Linked DNA regions of Homo sapiens: region 1 is linked to region 2. The links come from fine-mapping of genetic effects on gene expression. A gene starts in region 2. The other region holds a variant in brackets. All regions are shown on one strand. Distances are between the middles of the regions. Region 1 overlaps DNMT3B (DNA methyltransferase 3 beta). Region 2 holds the start of COMMD7 (COMM domain containing 7).

Region 1 (5,373 bases), 28 kb before region 2:
GACACCACACCTAGGTGAAGTAGAGAGCGGGAAGGATCCAGGCAGCAGGGACAGCACATCCAAAGGAAAGGGGGCCAGACTCAGGCTGTCCACACTGGCGGCGGCAGCAGAACACATGACAGAACACAAGGTCCCAGTACTGTGCTTTTGCTCTGTCTGATAAGGAACTTACCCTAAATTCCAGAAAACATCAGATTTACAGGAAAGCGTAAAAAAAAAAAAAAAAAAAAAAAAAACCACTGCCGGGCGCAGTGGCTCATGCCTGTTAATACCACCACTTTAGGAGGCCAAGGCTTGAGCTTGGGCTCAGGAGTTCAACGCCAGCCTGGGCAACACAGCAAAACCTCTTCTCTATTAAAATATTTCTTAAAATTAGCTGAATGTGTCGGCCTGCCCCTGTAGTCCTAGCTACTCGCCTGTAGTCCCACCTCCTCGGAGGCTGATGGGGAATGATCACCTAAGCCTCGGAAGTTGAGGCTGCAGTAAAGCTATCGTCATGCCACTGCACTCTAGGCCCAGTGACAGCACAAGACCCTGTTATAAAAAAAAAAAAAAAAAGCCCAATATTTCTCTCAAACCCCAGTTTTATAATCTGTGAAATAAAGTAACCCACCCAATTCACTGGGAAGTTGGTACCAAGGACCCCTACATAGATGACACAGTCATGATACCTGAAGTCACTTATTCTCATGTGCCATCTGGCTACCCACCACAGCACCACACCACAGGGCCAATCAAGAAGTATCCACCCCATCACCCTCCACAATTCAGAATGCGTTTGGGGAATTGCTCAGTGCCTCTAGGTCATGAGTACATGTACCACTGTCATCCTACAGTAGAAGCTGGGCCCTTGGCATAGTAAGCAGAATTATCAGAAGAGTGTGTCCATACAAAAAATAAACTAGGCGTGGTGGCACACACCTATAGTCCCAGCTACTCAGGAGGCTGAGGCAGGAGAATCGCTTGAACCCGGGAGGTGGACGTCGCAGTGAGCCACTGCACTCCAGCCTGGGCAACAGTACAGGCTCAGGCTCCCTCTCAAAAAAAAAAAAAGCCAGGCACAGTGGCTCACGTCTGTGATCCCAGCACTTTGGGAGGCCGAGGAGGGCGGATTACATGAGGTCGGGAGTTCAAGACCAGCCTGACCAACATGGAGAAACCCCGCTCTCTACTAAAAATACAAAATTAGCCGGGGTGGTGGCACATGCCTGTAATCCCAGCTACTCGGGATCGTGCCATTGCACTCTAGCCTGGGCAACAAGAGCGAAACTCCATCTCAAAAAAAAAAAAAAAAAATGTGTCCAAACAGGGAAAAACCAGACAAGTGGCTATCTGCAGACTGTGCATGACACCAAAATATACTCAGATGTTTGTCAACGCACTGGAATAAAATAATGTCATTACCTTTTAGATAAGTAACAGGAAAAAAAAAACTAGGACCATAAAGATCTGAAAAGATATGACAGTAACTTTAGAGTCTAAACTTTTTGCCCTTTATACAGAAATCACAAACACCCAGCCCCTTCCCCTATATCCACTTTGAGAACCCCTTGAAGGGTGTGGCAGCCCCAAGGAGTGGTCAATGGTAACTCAGAGAATGAGGGGCAGCATTGGAGCAGAATCCTAGGCACTGCTATGCCCAATTCCTGTGGCCACCTACCCCTTGGCAAAATCAGAGCCAACAGCCCTGTCCCCTCCCAAGGGGGCAAAGGAGGTCAATATTCTGGAAAGAGACCCCCTCAACCTTGGCCCCTCCCTCACAGCAGGCTGCACCTGTGGCTTCAACTAAGAACGCCTTAAATCTCAAGTCTACCTATCTACACAGTATTTAGTCATCTTAAGCCTAAATACCTACACAGCAGGGATACTGGTTCAGTCTTTGGGATAGTAATCTTCACTGTGTCATCTAAAATGCCTAATGTCTATATCCTGTTACACAGGATTCTACTGCTCAGAAACCACCCAGTTCAAAGCTCTCGCCAAGGCCTCTGTGCAAGGGGGTTGCTGCAGTCCCATTTGTCATAGCAAACACTGCAATCAAATCACGGTCAAGAGGACTGGTTGACTAAATTACCTGCTTCCACAATAGGGGGCAAAGAGTGCAGTACTTATTGTTAGACAAAGTTATGTAAAGTGAAAACAAGAAACCTGCATAATGCAACATCAATTATTGATGTTTAAGCCATTTCTCTGCAGCATTTCTTCTCTAACTATAAAAATTCATACTCAGAAGGAAGGTTTGGGGGGTAACTACCTTAAGCCCATGTAACTTTTACAATCGGAAAACATAACTCGCCTGTCTGAGAAACATTTATTTGAATTAGGCCACTCAGGTTTAATCAACATAATTATTTGATTATTTGTATATGGTATGAGATAGGGACCTAATATTTTTCCCCGTAAGTAAAGCCAGACACCTATGAATACATCCCAACTCTATCTCTTATTTGAACTTCCCATATATATGTAATATGTTTTGAGGCTCACTTTTGTTTGGTATTTATCCTTTACCACTCCTTTTTTTTTTTTTTTTTTGAGATGCGGTCTTGCTCTGTTGCCCAGGCTGGAGTGCAATGGCATGATCTCGGGTCACTGTAACCCCTCCACCTCCTGGGTTCAAGTGATTCTCCTGCCTCAGCTTCCTTGGGATTACAGGCACATGCCACCACGCCCGGCTAATTTTTGTATTTTTAGTAGAGATAGGGTTTCAGTATGCTGGCCAGGCTGGTCTCGAACTCCTGACCTCAGGCGATCCGCCCACCTCAGCCTCCCAAAGTGCTGGGATTACAGGTGTGAGCCACTGCACCCAGCCATTGCCACTACTTTTAATCACTACAACTGCTAGAGCAAGCCTGCAAGCCTTATTG[A/G]AAAGTTCATTTTCTCCCTTTAGTTTGTGGTCTCTCATTTCCTGTTCTCTTCTGCTCTCTAGATTTCTTTAAGGGAGCTTAGTTCTTCTACCAACAGATAAAGGCACAGCATTTTTAGTTGTTTCAACATGGATAGACTTTCAAATAAATTATTTCTATCGTAACCAGAAAATATGTCCTTGCACACTATGTATTGAAAAGGTAAAAATCACAACACAAAGAAAAGCTAGAAATGTTATATTCACAGCAAAAAAAAAGATGCCAGGGACAGTGGCTCATGCCTGTAACCCCAGCAATGTGGGAGGCCTAGGCAGGAGGATTGCTTGAGCCCAGGAGTTCAAGATCAGCCTGGGCAACAAAGTGAGACCCCAACATTACAAAAAAAAAATTTAGGCCGGGCATGGTGGCTCATGCCTGTAATCCCAGCACTTTGGGAGGCTGAGGCAGGCAGATCACCCGAGGTCAGGGGTTCAAGACCAGCCTGACCAACACGGAGAAACCCCGTTTCCACTAAAAATACAAAATTAGCCGGGCATGGTGGCACATGCCTGTAATCCCAGCTACTCAGGAGGCTGAGGCAAGAGAATCACTTGAACCCGGGAGGCGGAGGTTGTGGTGAACCAAGATCATGCCATTGCACTCCAGCCTGGGCAAAGAGCGAAACTCTGTCTCAAAAGGAAAAAAAAAAAAAAAGTAAGGCGGAGCATGGTGGCTCAAGCCTATAATTCCAGCACTTTGGGAGGCCAAGGTGGGCGGCTCACCTGAGGTCGGGAGTTCGAGACCAGCCTGATCAACATGGAGAAACCCCATCTCTACTAAAACAACAACAACAAACAAACCAACAAAAATTAGCTGGTGGTGGTGGCACATGCCTGTAATCCCAGCTACTTGGGAGGCTGAGGCAGGAGAATCGCTTGAACCTGGGAGGCAGAGGTTGCGGTGAGCTGAGATCACACCATTGCATTCCAGCCTAGGCAACAAGAGTGAAAAACTCTGCCTCAGAAAAAAAAAAAAATTACAAAAACTAGCCTGATGAGGTGGCGGGCACCTGTAATTCCAGCTACTCAGGAGGCTGATGCAGAAGAATCGTTTGAACCCAGGAGGTGGAGGTTGCAGTGAGCTGAGATCATGCCATTGCACTCTAGCCTGAGTGACAGAGCAAGACCCTGTCTCAAAAATAATTTTTTTTTAAATTAACTGAGCATAGTGGTGCACAAGTGCCTGTAGTCGAAGCTACTGGGCAGTGGGGGCTGCAGTGGGAGGACTGCTGGAGCATTGGAGTTGAGGCTACAGTGAGCTGTGATTGTAGTACTGAACTCCAGAGACCTGTCTTAAAAAATTTTTTAAAAAGTAAGAAATAACTGCTAGTACGTGTCATAACACAAATAAATCTCAAATATCTCACAATAAGTAAAAGAACCCAGACTCGAAGGGCTATATAATGTATGGTTCCTGCTTGAATTCAGGAGGCGGAAGTTGCAATGTGCCAAATCGTGCCACTGCACTCCAGCCTGGGCAACAGAGTGAGATGCTGTCTCAAAAATAATAATAATGTATGATTCCATTTATATGACATTCTGGAAAAAGCAGTACTGCAGGGACAGAAAACAAATCTCGAGAAGGAAAACAGAAATGTCAAAATTAAGGCCTGCAGATAAGGGAACTGCATATATACAAATGGCTTTAAAAGAAGCCCATGATCTCACATAAAAACCACTTTTCAAAAACTGTCCACAATTACCTAGTGGGGGCTCAGATCTGCCCACCCCAACGGTCAAGAAGCAGGCCTGTAAAACAGTCAGCTGAACCCACAGAGAGCACCAAAGCATCTTAACCCAGCGCATCTTGTGTGTCCTGCCAGTTCTGTGGGTTCAGCCATGTGCTGGCAGAGGTTTTGGAAAGAAATTTGCAACAGTGGGCCCGGCATGGTGGCTCACGCCTGTAATCCCAGTACTTTGGGAGGCCGAGGCGGGCAGATCACGAGGTCAGGAGATCAAGACCATCCTGGCGAACATGGTGAAACCCCGTCTCTACTAAAAATACAAAAAATTAGCCGGGCAAGGTGGCGGGCGCCTGTAGTCCCAGCTACTACTAGGGAGGCTGAGGCAGGAGAATGGCGTGAACCCGGAAGGCAGAGCTTGCAGTGAGCCGAGATCTCGCCACTGCACTCCAGCCTGGGCGACAGAGCAAGACTCCGTCTCAAAAAATAAAAAAATTTGCAACAGTGTTTTAATGCAGTTCTACTCCTTGCTAGTTTTGTGGTTGTAGTAACAATCATATTTAGTACTGAGCAATTCCCCTAATTCAGCATCCTGCTTACAGCTCAGCATGTAACATCCTAGGGCAACATGAGGACACAGGTGAGGTTTGCAAATTCACCCAAGGACTTGGGAAAGCCAGTGCCTAAGCTTGAGGCTCTTCCTCCAGTGCCATTGTCGGGGTAGGGCTTCCTTACCCATGGTGCCAAACAACTCCCAGAGTCAGAGAAAATGGCTTGCCTGGAATA
Region 2 (5,362 bases):
CGGCTCACTGCAATCTCTGCCTACTGGGTTCAAGCGATTTTCCTGCCTCAGCCTCTAGAGTAGCCGGGATTACAGGCATGAACCACCATGCCCGGCTAATTTTTGTATTTTTAGTAGAACCAGGGTTTCACTATGTTGGCTAGGCTGGTCTTGAACTCCGGACCTCAGGTGATCCACCGGCCTCAGCCTCCCAGAGTGCTAGGATTACAGGCATGCGTCACTGCGCCCAGCCCAGATCTTCTTTTTTAACAAGGTTAAAAATATTTAAAAATAAAAATTCCGGGCCAGGTGCAGTGGCTCACGCCTGTAATGCCAGCACTTTGGGAGGCTGACGCAGGTGGATCACTTGAGGTCAGGAGTATGAGACCAGCCTGGCCAATGCGGTGAAAACCCATCTCTAGTAAGAAGACAAAAGTTGGGCCAGGTGCGGTGGCTCGCGCCTGTAAACCCAGCACTTTGGGAGGCCGAGGCAGGCGGATCACCTGAGGTGGGGAGTTCAAGACCAGCCTGACCAACATGGAGAAACCCGTCTCTACTAAAAGTACAAAATTAGCCGGGGTGGTGGCACATGCCTGTAATCCCAGCTACTTGGGAGGCTGAGACAGGAGAATCACTTGAACCCGGGAGGCGGAGGTTGCAGTGAGCCGAGATCTCGCCATTGCACTCCAGCCTGGACAAAAAGAGCAAAACTCCGTTTCCAAAAAAAAAAAAAAAAGACAAAAGTTAGCTGGGTTTGGTGGTGGCCACCTGCATTCCCAGCTATTCGGGAGGCTGAGGCTGGAGAATCACTAGAACCCGGGAAGCAGAAATTGCAGTGAGCCGAGATTGTGCCACTGCACTCCAGCCTGGGTGACAGAGCCAGAATCTGTCTCAAAAAAAAAAAAAAAAAAAATTCTTGCACGGTGAGTAGGGCCTCTGAGTTCCTGTCTGTTTGTCACCCGAAGGTTTATTCTCTTCCAGGTACTCCAAACTCGGACTGTGTCCTGTACACATTCTCAAAGCACCTCCTACTTTTTGGCATCCCTTAATACTTTCACACACACTTGCGTCTGCCCCCTGGGTCAATTCTGACTTCTCAGAGGCCAGGCACTGCATCTGGTTCATCTGGTTGTGTCACTGTGGAATCCCCACCCCCTATCATGTCATGGTATCTGCCTCACAGCAGACCTTCTTTTTTTTTTATGGAGATGTGGTCTTGCTCTGTCGCCCAGGCTGGAGTGCAGTGGCGCCATCTGGGTTCACTGCAGTCTCGATCTCAAGATCTCAAGTGATCCTCTTGCCTCAGCCTCCGAGTAGCTGGGACCACAGGCATGTGCCACTCAATATTTGTTGAATGAATGTATGAATGATATAATGACTGAAGGGGATGGGCTTGGCCTTTGGGTAGAAGACTTTTTTGTTTTTTCTTTGAGACGGAGTTTCGCTCTTGTTGCCCAGGCTGGAGTGCAATGGCGCGATCTCGGCTTACCGCAACCTATGCCTCCCGGGTTCAGGGAATTCTCCTGCCTCAGCCTCCCGAGTAGCTGAGATTACAGACATGCACCACTACGCCCGGCTAATTTTGTATTTTTAGTAGAGACGGAGTTTCTCCATGTTGAGGCTGGTCTCAAACTCCTGACCTCAAGTGATCCGCCCGCCTCAGCCTCCCAAAGTGCTGGGATTACAGGAGTGAGCCACCGCGCCGGGCCGGGTAGAAGACATTTTGTTTATACTTTTACAGAAGGGATTTTCAGGAAAGGGTAGAGGAGAGGAGGAGGGCTGGTGAGGAAGGCCAGCCAAACCCCCCACATTTCCCTGCTCCAGGTTTCTCGGCATTACCTCTTTACCCTCAAGGCTGGACTTAGGGGCTAGGTGAAGCCCTTAGGCTTGGCGTTCAGTTCCTAGATTCTGGGTAGCATGTCTCTATTTTCTCATGTTTCCAGTGGGGATTAGGGTAATATTCACCTGGGAACTGTGAGGAGCCCCTGGGAAGAGAGGGCATGGGGGTTAGAGTGTTTGAGGGGCTGCAGTGATGATCACGGTCTCAGTAACCTCCCCTCACCCACCTCACCACCACCCTCCCTGCCCCGCACAGTCAAAGCCCTCGCACTATTTTGAGGAAACTTTGGTAAGTCAGTTTCTTCCACTCCAGAAGGTCTCAAAGTGTAGTCCCTGGGTGCTTATTGGAAATGCAAATTCTCAGGCTCCACCCTGGCCTTTCGAATCAGATCCTCTGGGGGCGGGGCCCGGCAATACCAGGTGATGCTGGGGTGATGCTGATGCCCTTCCAAGGTTGAGACCTAGTCTCTACTCTGATGTCAGCTCTCCGAGAGACACTCTGGCCTGCTTTGTTCCCTTCCCTGTCCCCAGTGTCTGGCATCGAGTAGGCTGCCATAAATATCTCTGGAGTGCATAGTAACAGTGATGATGATAATAGCAGCTAGCCATTGATTGAAGACCTCTTGTGTGCCGGTCTCTGCGTTAAACATTTCTGGAGGCTTAACTCATTTAAGGAGCTACCCCAGCCATCATTTTCTCAGATGGTGAAACTGAGGTTCAGAGAGGCCAAGCGCCGTACCCAAAGGTCACTCAGCGGGAGAGCTGGCAGGAAACCTCGCGTCTGCCGGTGCCGGCGCCGCCCCTGCCCCTCCCCGGAGCCCGGCGGCCGCGCGTGTCCGCGGCCCTGCGAGGGCTCCCCGGCTCCGGACAGCCCAGGGCGGCCGGGGGAGGAGTGCGCTGCGACGGCCGTGGCGAAAGTGCGGTTGTGGATGCGCGGAGAGGCCGGCAGCGGTGGCAGCGGCAGCGGAGGAGGAAGCTGAGCAGGGCGGCGGCGGCGGTGGAACCTGCGGGGCTGGGGCGCGCGCCATGGGCCGCCTGCACTGCACTGAGGACCCGGTGCCGGAGGCCGTGGGCGGCGACATGCAGCAGCTGAACCAGCTGGGCGCGCAGGTGGGCCCGGCGGCGGGGCGTGGGGCGCGGGGCCCAGGTGATTCCAGGATCCGGGCCTGGGGTGGGGGGGACGTCCGGGGGTGCGCGGGAGTTGGGAGAGACTAGACAGAGCGGCGTCTTGTGGGCGTTTGGGGTGTGTGAGGTGGGTTCGGGGCGAGGCTAAGGTGAGCTGGGGTCTGAGGAGAGTGTGGGGAGCCAAGGGATCTCCGGAGGCCTAAGGGCCACCTGAGGGGTCCGAAAGGCTTTGTGGGGTCTCAGAGATGGGACTACGGGACCTCTGCGGGGTCCTGGGGCCGAGGAGAGCTTTTGGGGTCCTAGAAGAGGGACGGAGGGGAGTCTAGATGAGGCTGAAGGAGTTTGGGGAACTGAAGGAACAGACTAAGGGCGTGGGGAGTTTTGGGGAGCAGTGGGGTCCAAAGGGAGATAGATGTTTGGCAGGGAGGCCGAGGAAGCCTGAGGGGAGTGGGAGGGCCCGAGAATCTGAGGGGGCCCGGGGAAGCTTGGCCTGGGCTGCCGTCTTACATCTCAGTGTGACATGAGTGTCAGTAATAGCCAGGCCCCACTGGGGCTCTGTGGGCCTGAGGGGCTCGATCTGGGACAAGGCTGATGACACCTTCCACCTCCACCCAGTTAAGGAGAGTCACTGGGATTCACATGGAAAGAAACCTTATACACTGTGTACAGTGGGGGTCTTCATCCTCGATGGTAGGGGAGCTAGCAAAGCCTTTTTCTCCCCCTTCAGGCTGCAGGTGCCAACCAAGGCAGTCTTGGAGGCATCCTGCTTCTGTGCTGGTTGGGATGCCTTTTCATACCACCAAGGCTGCTGAAATAGGTGAGAATGACACTTCTCACCCCCACTGGGAAGATACATCTATTTCCCCCGCTAGGTTGTCACTTCCCAGGAGGTAGCGCCCCTCTTCTTTCATCTCCATACCCCCCACAACTTCCCACACAGTAGTGCTGCTTGCGAGATAAAAACCAAACTTAGAACTTGTAACGACAGGAAGGTTCTAAGCTTGAGCTATGCAATAGAAAAATTTGCAAGCCACATTTCTAACTTTGCATTTTGTAGTAGCCACATTTAAAAATTAAATAGAAATGGAAATTAATTTTTTTTTTTTGAGACGTAGTCTCATTCTGTCACCCAGGCTGGAGTGCAGTGGCGCGATCTCGGGTCACTGCAACCTCCGCCTCCCAGGTTCAACCAGTTCTCTGTCTCAGTCTCCCGAGTAACTGGGACTACAGGCACACGCCACCATGCCCAGCTAATTTTTGTATTTTTAGTAGAGATGGGGTTTGACCATGTTGGCCAGGCTGGTCTTGAACACCTGACCTCAGGTGATCTGCCCACCTCAGCCTCCCAGAGTGTTGGGATTACAGGCGTGAGCCACTGTGCCCAGCCCTGAGTTTATCTTATGCAAGCATCCTAGAGTTTATTTACACAAACCTACTGCACCCTAGGATATATGGTATAGCGCATTGCTCCTAGGCTACAAACCTATACAGCATGTGACTGTACTGAATACCATAGGCAACTGGACTATAATGGTAAATATTTGTGTGTTTAGACAAATCTAAATAGAAAAGGTACAGTACAAATACAGTATAAAAGATAAAAAATAGGCCGGGCACGGTGGCTCACACCTACCCTAGGACTTTGGGAGGCCAAGGTGGGCGGATCACAAGGTCAGGAGATCGAGACCATCCTGGCCAACATGATGAAACCCTGTCTCTACTAAAAATACAAAAATTAGCTGGGTGTAGTGGCGGGCACTTGTAGTCCCGGCTACTCTGGAGGCTAAGGCAGGAGAATCGCCTGAACCTGAGAGGTGGAGGTTGCAGTAAGCTGCGATTGCACCACTGCATTCCAGCCTGGGCAATAGAGTGAGACTTCATCTCAAAAAAAAAAAAACAACTTTCTAGTTGGGTACGGTGGCACAGCTACCACAGTAGTCCCAGCTACTTGGGAGGCTGAGACAGGAGGATCACTTGAGCCCAGGATTTCAAGGCTGTAGTGCATGGTGATTCCACCTGTGAATAGCCATTGCACTCCAGCCTGGGCAGCATAGTGAGACCCCCATCCCTAAAAAAAAATTTTTTTTTTTCTGTTTTTGATAAGTTGACCTTAGCCTACTGTCAGTTTTTTTTTGTTTGTTTGTTTGTTTTAGACGGAGTCTTCCTCTGTCACCCAGGCTGGAGTGCAGTGGCGTGATCTTGGCTCACTGCAAACTTCACCTCCTGGGCTCAAGTGATTCTTTTGCCTCAGGCTCCCAAGTAGCTGGGACTACAGGCGTGCACCACCATGCCTGGCTAATTTTTGTATTTTTAGTAGAGACAGCGTTTCACCATGTTGGCCAGGCTGGTCACGAACTCCTGACCTCAAGTGATCTGCCTGCCTCAACCTCCCAAAGTGCTGGGATTACAGGCGTAAGCC

What was found.
Region 1: its variant is fine-mapped to the expression of COMMD7 in whole blood (TOPMed, PIP above 0.99).

What each region holds. Positions count from the first base shown.
Region 1 is chr20:32,768,798-32,774,170 of GRCh38, reverse strand. The region is part of intron 1 of DNMT3B (DNA methyltransferase 3 beta); the gene reads right to left. Among named protein-coding and RNA genes, the nearest start is that of DNMT3B, 9.1 kb to the right of the region's middle. RefSeq lists enhancers at 1-461, 3,431-3,932. The variant A/G (reference allele first, on the strand shown) is at 2,868.
Region 2 is chr20:32,740,874-32,746,235 of GRCh38, reverse strand. COMMD7 (COMM domain containing 7) reads left to right here and starts at 2,769. Exons shown (of 9, transcript NM_053041.3): 1 at 2,769-2,928. The coding sequence starts at 2,845. RefSeq lists enhancers at 1,274-2,218, 3,106-3,933, 4,603-5,104 and silencers at 2,514-2,743, 2,924-2,993, 3,978-4,152.